Homo sapiens: one gene and its partner. The protein of the gene in region 1 purifies or fractionates together with the protein of each later gene. This does not show direct contact. Each region holds a gene or a part of one and is shown in the gene's direction. Other genes may lie near its edges. The genes, in order: SLC35G5 and SLC35F3.

Region 1 (3,312 bases):
CGAGTGATCCGCCAGCCTCGGCCTCCTGAGGTGCCGGGATTGTAGACGGAGTCTGGTTCACTCAGTGCTCAATGTTGCCCAGGCTGGAGTGCAGTGGCGTGATCTCGGCTCGCTACAACCTCCACCTCCCAGCCGCCTGCCTTGGCCTCCCAAAGTGCTGAGATTGCAGCCTCTGCCCGGCCGCCACCCCGTCTGGGAAGGGAGGAGCGTCTCCGCCTGGCCACCCATCGTCTGGGATGTGAGGAGCCCCTCTGCCCGGCTGCCCAGTCTGGGAAGTGAGGAGCGCCTCTTCCTGGCCGCCATCCCGTCTAGGAAGTGAGGAGCGTCTCTGCCCAGCTGCCCATCATCTGAGATGTGGGGAGCGCCTCTGCCCGGCTGCGACCCCGTCTGGGAGGTGAGAAGCGTCTCTGCCCGGCCGCCCTGTCTGAGAAGTGAGGAGCCCCTCCGCCTGGCAGCTGCCCCGTCTGGGAAGTGAGGAGCACCCCGCCCGGCAGCCGCCCCGTCTGGGAAGTGAGGAGCGTCTCCGCCTGGCAGCCGCCCCATCCGGGAGGGAGGTGGGAGGTCAGCCCCCGCCCGGCCAGCAGCCCCGTCCGGGAGGGAGGTCGGGGATCAGCCCCCGCCCGGCCAGCCGCCCCGTCCGGGAGGGAGGTGGGGGGTCAGCCGCGGCCTGGCCAGCCGCCCCGTCCGGGAGGGAGGTGGAGGGTCAGCCCCCCACCGGCCAGCCGCCCTGTCCGGGAGGGAGGTGGGGGGTCAGCCCCCACCCGGCCAGCTGCCCCGTCTGGGAGGGAGGTGGGGGGCGCCTCTGCCCGGCTGCCCCTTCTGGGAAGTGAGGAGCCCCTCTGCCCGGCCACCACCCCGTCTGGGAGGTGTACCCAACAGCTCATTGAGAACGGGCCATGATGACGATGGCGGTTTTGTGGAATAGAAAAGGGGGAAAGGTGGGGAAAAGATAGAGAAATCAGATTGTTGCTGTGTCTGTGTAGAAAGAAGTAGACATGGGAGACTTCATTTTGTTCTGTACTGGGAGGGGTTCTTCTGCCTTGGGATACTGTTGATCTGTGACCTTGACCCCAGCCCTGTGCTCTCTGGGGCATGTGCTGTGTCCACTCAGGGTTAAATGGATTAAGGGCGGTGCAAGATGTGCTTTGTTAAACAGATACTTGAAGACAGCATGCTCGTTAAGAGTCATCACCACTCCCTAATCTCAAGTACCCAGGGACACAAACACTGCGGAAGGCCGCAGGGTCCTCTGCCTAGGAAAACCAGAGACCTTTGTTCACTTGTTTATCTGCTGACCTTCCCTCCACTATTGTCCTATGACCCTGCCAAATCCCCCTCTGCGAGAAACACCCAAGAATGATCAATTAAAAAAAAAAAAAAGAAAGAAAGAAAGAAAGAAAAGAAGCAGAGTTGGACTCAGCGGGAAAATAGGCGTGCTACCACCTCAGGAGAGTTCCAGGGAAGAACCCCACCCGCACTCCAATGAGGTCACAATGGCTGGAGCTCTGAGGGGCCCAGGCTCCCTGAGCCAGGAGGAGAGGAGAAAGTCCAAGGAAAGATGGCTGGCAGTCACCCCTACTTCAACCTGCCTGACTCCACACACCCATCGCCGCCCTCCGCTCCACCCAGCCTCCGCTGGCACCAGCGCTGCCAGCCCTCTGGTGCCACCAATGGCCTGCTGGTGGCCCTGCTGGGTGGGGGCCTGCCTGCTGGCTTCGTGGGCCCCCTTTCTCGTATGGCTTACCAGGGTTCCAACCTGCCCTCGCTGGAGCTGCTCATCTGTCGATGCCTCTTCCACCTCCCTATTGCCCTGCTACTTAAACTGCGTGGCGACCCCCTTCTGGGACCTCCTGACATCCGAGGCTGGGCCTGCTTCTGTGCCCTGCTCAACGTCCTCAGCATTGGATGTGCCTACAGTGCAGTTCAGGTGGTGCCCGCTGGCAACGCTGCCACTGTTCGCAAAGGTTCTTCCACCGTATGCTCCGCTGTCCTCACCCTCTGCCTTGAGAGCCAGGGTCTCGGTGGCTACGAGTGGTGTGGACTGTTGGGCAGCATCCTAGGACTAATCATCATTCTGGGACCTGGACTCTGGACACTACAGGAGGGGACCACAGGTGTCTACACCACCCTGGGCTATGTGCAGGCTTTCCTGGGAGGCCTGGCGCTGTCCCTGGGGCTTCTGGTCTATCGTTCTCTGCACTTTCCCTCCTGCCTCCCAACAGTGGCCTTCCTATCTGGCTTGGTGGGGCTGCTGGGCTGTGTGCCAGGCCTCTTTGTGCTGCAGACCCCCGTGTTGCCCAGTGACCTCCTGAGTTGGAGTTGTGTGGGGGCAGAGGGGATCCTCGCCTTGGTCTCCTTCACATGTGTGGGCTATGCGGTCACCAAGGCCCACCCTGCCCTGGTGTGCGCTGTCCTGCATTCCGAGGTGGTTGTGGCCCTTATACTGCAGTATTATATGCTCCATGAGACTGTGGCACTTTCTGACATCATGGGGGCAGGGGTTGTGCTGGGCAGCATTGCCATCATTACAGCCCGGAACCTCAGCTGTGAGAGGACAGGGAAGGTGGAGGAGTGAGATAGAACTTGGGAGCCCGGGGGTTGGGAGGGACAGGGATAAATAAAGACAAAGACTGAAGACAAAAAAAAAATAAAAGAAAAAAAATAATTATAATAAATCCTAGGAAAGAGTGAAAGTCTAACTTCCATAGCACATTATAATATTGAGATGTTCAGTTATAATAAAAATATCACAAAGCATGCAAACAAATGAGAAATCTGGCTTATTTACAGGAATAAAATTAATTGAACTATCCTTAAGGAATCCCAGACTTTGGACTTACTAGACAAAGACTAAACAATTGTCTTAAATATGCACAAGAGTTAAAAGACAACTAAATGAAATCAGAGAAATGATGTTTGAACAAAATGAGAATATCAATAAAAATATAAAAATTATAGAAAGGAACCAGGTAGAAATTTTGTAGCTGAAACGTGCGACAACTGAGATGAGAAATTCACTAGAAGGGTTCGATAGAGTTTGTTTGTTTTTTGTTTTTTGCTTTTTTTTTTCTGAGACAGAATCTTGCTCTGTCACACAGGCTGGAGTGCAGTGGCATGATCTCAGCTCACTGTAACATCCGCCTTCTGGGTTCAAGCAATTCTCCTACATCAGCCTCCCAAGTAGCTGAGATTACAGGTGCATGCCACCACACGCAGCTAATTTTTGTATTTTTAGTAGAGATGAGGTTTCACTATGTTGGCCAGGCTGGTCTCAAACTCCTGACCTTGTGATCCACCCGCCTTGGCCTCCCA
Region 2 (3,911 bases), on another chromosome or scaffold:
TTAATGTTCAGAGGGAATTCTGGCTCCTTTAAAATACCAACTTGTAAATCAGAGCACGAATTCTGGAGGAGGGGGCTCTGATGGAGCTTGAATAGAATCACATGGCCAGTCTCACATGTCCCCTTAGTGAAACGGATTTGGTGCAAAGAATTCTGATCCTCAGGGTTGACCTAAACCAGTGGCTCATGGACCAGCCAGAAATTGCTAAAGAGGCACTTAATGCACCCTCTTCTGAATAGAAGCCAAAAGCAGAAGGAAACAAATCATTAGCACCCAAGATTGTCCCAAAGGCAAGAGTAAAATAGTCCCAGAGAAAAGCTAATATTTAGTAAATGATGTATTTAACAGTTAAGTATCCCTAAGTGTATTTAATTTGTAATTAGGCGGTAACCCTTCATTAAAACTGATTAGGATGGTATGCTACTGCCTCTAACGAAATGCTCAAAGTGAGCTTATATGCACGTTCTTGATCAAGAATTATTGGGAGAGAAGATGAAATTCTTCTTTCCTGCTACCTTCAACCATACAGGCTGAAAGAGGACCCCCAAGTGGTAACACTGGCTGTTGTCCCAAATGTGCTCCATGGCTACCACTTACCTGGGAAGACTGTCACCACCAGCCACTTAGGGCGGGCCTGGCACCATTAAACTATTGTGCTGAAAACCGCACAGATGGAATCAAGATCAAGTGGTGCTTATACGGTCAATGTAGGAAAAAATGGAAGGTCATTGAAGATTAGTTATACATAGAAAAGCATCAGCACCTTGATTTCAACCTATTGTCTTCCTATAAAAAGTGCTCAAAAAGAATCATTTAAAAAATCTGATGACTGCCCTGTTAACTGGCGAACAATGTAAAAGAGGGAGGATAATCCCAACTTTATTGGTAAACTGGTTAAAAGCTTTCCCAATTTCTGTCATCACATTCTGCTCCAGCTCTTTAAAAAAGTTGTTTTGTTTTGTTTTGTTTTTTGTTTGTTTTTTTCTGATTATAAGCTGTGTTAGCCCCGTGGCTAGGCAGAGATGCTAATTTACCAGCCAATTATTAGGCATGTCAATCAAGCCATATACACCATTGGAGGGGTGAAGAGAGATCCTTCCTCAAAAGGAGAGAAAAATTTTAACATCACAGACCTTCCTTAGGACATCACAATTCTGTCACAACTCATATTGGGAGTACTTTAAACAGACTTTAGGATTCTCAGAGATCAAGGAAGACTGAAATCACATCTTTCATCTTCATGCTTTATCAAAATTAATGCCAGAGAGAAGATTTTGATTTGTCTGAGGAGATGAGTCTCTTGGCTAAAAGTGTTTAGCAGGGAGCTGGGAAGAAAAGGAGATGAACAGAGACCTGTTCCACCAAGAGGGGAGCTGGACAGATACAGCAGCTTTTCTTGCAGTTATCAGGAGGCAATCAGATGGAAGCTTCTTTTCTCTAAACCCTCCCCAACTGAGCCGCTTCCCCAGGGTGAAGCCGGAGCCGAGAGAGGAAGGCATGTGTTCCCCAGCACAGAGCTCCGCAACCTGCAACGCCCTGTGAGGCTCCCTGGGGTCTTGTTGAAGGCAGACTCTGATTCAGTGGGTCTGAGTGGATCTGAGATTCCGCTTTTCTAGGGAACTTCCAGGGAATCCTAGTGCTGCTGGCCCACAGGCTGCACTTTAACTGTAAATGCCCTGGAGTTGTTGAGTCCCAGCTACAGATTTTTTTTTTAAATGCTGCTGATTTTACCAAATGTTAGAACTAGGATTCACCTCACCATGTAGAACTGATGAGTGACTCCATTGAGCCCCAGAGGATGTTCGAGCCCTGGTCCTCTTCAAGCCCTGGTCCTCTGCCACTCATGACGGGAGGCTCCGTGGGCAAGTCCTCAAAGCTCTCAGAGCCTCAGATGCCCATTTGTAAATGGGAGGTGATGATATATGCACTGTCTTGTACAAAAGACTGCTGTGTGATCAAATGACACGCTGTATATGAAAGCGCCCTATACACTGTAACATGCTGTGTAAACGCGAGGAACAAGTACTGTGTTGTGATAGCCTCTGTGGGTTGTACTGAAGGCTGTTGCCCATGCTTTGTTCGTGAGCTGCCTTGTGGTGGCCAATTTAAACTACGAGAGTGCCAACCCCTATGCTGCATGCAAGTGTCAGTCCTGAAGAAATCAACTTGTGGCCCTAGTGCCTTCACAGGGCATACAAGAACACTGATCAGGGCTTCTCATGATCAGATACTGTTGTCAAGAATTAGATGTGAATGGGCAAACCTCTCAGCCTAACTCATCTGGGTTTTCAGCCCCTGCCTTAGTCTTCCTAGCAAGCACTCAACCATCCAGGAGTACAATGAGCTGCTTCCTTCTCCAATATGATAGGCAGCCCAACCCTTATCTTCACTGTTTCTCAATGAAGGTGGCCACAAGGATGTTCTGAGGAAGCAATAGTGCCCAGAACTCAGAGAGGGCTTCAGTCATGAGACGCTTGAGGGTGCTTGGGAACCACAGTTTCCTGGACCACCTAGCATCTAGGGGAGGCACAGGGAAGTGGCTGTATCAGGTCTGTGTTTGGGAGAGACTGTTGAGCACATGTGTGATGACACACAGCCTCCTGGCCCCTCTGACCTTGGAACAGGAATGCAGCTTTTCAGATCTGAGAGGTCAGCAGAGCTGGAGCAGATCTGGGGCATTTTCAGTCTTGTCCAAAGGTCTTCCAGGAATTTGCAGCAGTAATGACCTGCTTTCGAAAGCAAATGCTGAGACCTTCTGCTATCATGCAGCTGCCAAAAAAAGTGAACGGTGCAGTGGTGACAGATGTTTTTCTCTGCCTTTTGTAGTTCCAGGCTTTCTGTAAGCCAGCCAATTGATTCTGCTTCAGATATTCTGAGCAACAGTAGAGCCAAGAAAGGGAAAAGGGCAGTTTAGATGCCTTTCATCTTAAACCCTGCAAGGGCCCGGTGTGTGTACCTTGCCACCCAGACTTACGCAGGAACCATATCGGGTCTTGCAGCTGTAACATTTATCGGCCATTTAAAATCTAAAGAGCAGAGTGGAGCAGTTGCAAACCGGAGCTTTGTTCTGAAAATAGTTACTGTGCGTCTTCTCTAGGCAATGCACTAGAAATACAAGATAAATGGACTCTGGAAAGGGAGTCAGATAGCCAAACAGGGTGGGGGTGCATGCAAGGGAGCTGAGAGTGGGGGAAGGCCCAGATACATGTCCAGATACATGTGTCCTGGGGCAGGGTACAAAAGTTTCTTAGAAGAAGTTAGCTAGGGCCTGGCATGGTGGCTCTTGTCTGTAATCCCAGCACTTTGGTGGGCTGAGGAGGGCAGATTGATTGAGCCCAGAAGTTCAAGACCAGCCTTGGCAACATGGCAAAACCCTGTCTCTACTAAAAATACTAAAAATTAGCCAGGCGTGATGGTGCACCTGTAGTCCCAGCTACTCAGGGGACTAGGCAGGAGGATCACCTGAGCCTTGGGAGGTTAAGGCTGTAATAAGCAGTGATCAGACCACTGCACTCCAGCCTGGGTAACAGCGTGAGACCCTGTCTCAAAACAAAAAAAAAGAAGTTAGCCAGAAACAATTTATTTAAGGACAAGCAGATGGTTCTCTAGGTGCCGAAGGAGAAGGTCAAGAACATTCTAAGCAGACAGTAGCCTGGATAAAGGACACAGCCTGGACAAAGAGCACGGAGCTCTTCTTAGGATGTAGGATGTAATTGGGGTAAGGTGAAAGAGAAGACCCAGCAGTTAGGCAGAGCAGATGCTGGCAAGCCTCCTACACTATGCTGAGGAGTTTCACTTCCAGTGTGAATATCAGGAGTCATGGAAGCAATGATCAGATTGGATCTTTCAAAATGCAGCTGCTGCGACTCTGTAGAAAATGGAATGAAGGACAAGGCTGGAGGTCAATCCAG

The links.
Region 2: the proteins of SLC35G5 (region 1) and SLC35F3 purify together in Homo sapiens (affinity purification with mass spectrometry; one large-scale study listed by BioGRID and IntAct). This does not show direct contact.

The regions. Positions count from the first base shown.
Region 1 is NC_000008.11:11,329,549-11,332,860, forward strand, and holds SLC35G5 (solute carrier family 35 member G5), read left to right. Parts: upstream 1-1,463; 5' UTR 1,464-1,558; coding exon 1,559-2,575; 3' UTR 2,576-2,812; downstream 2,813-3,312.
Region 2 is NC_000001.11:234,232,894-234,236,804, forward strand, and holds part of SLC35F3 (solute carrier family 35 member F3), read left to right. Parts: intron 1-3,911. UniProt on the Homo sapiens protein: Mediates thiamine transport.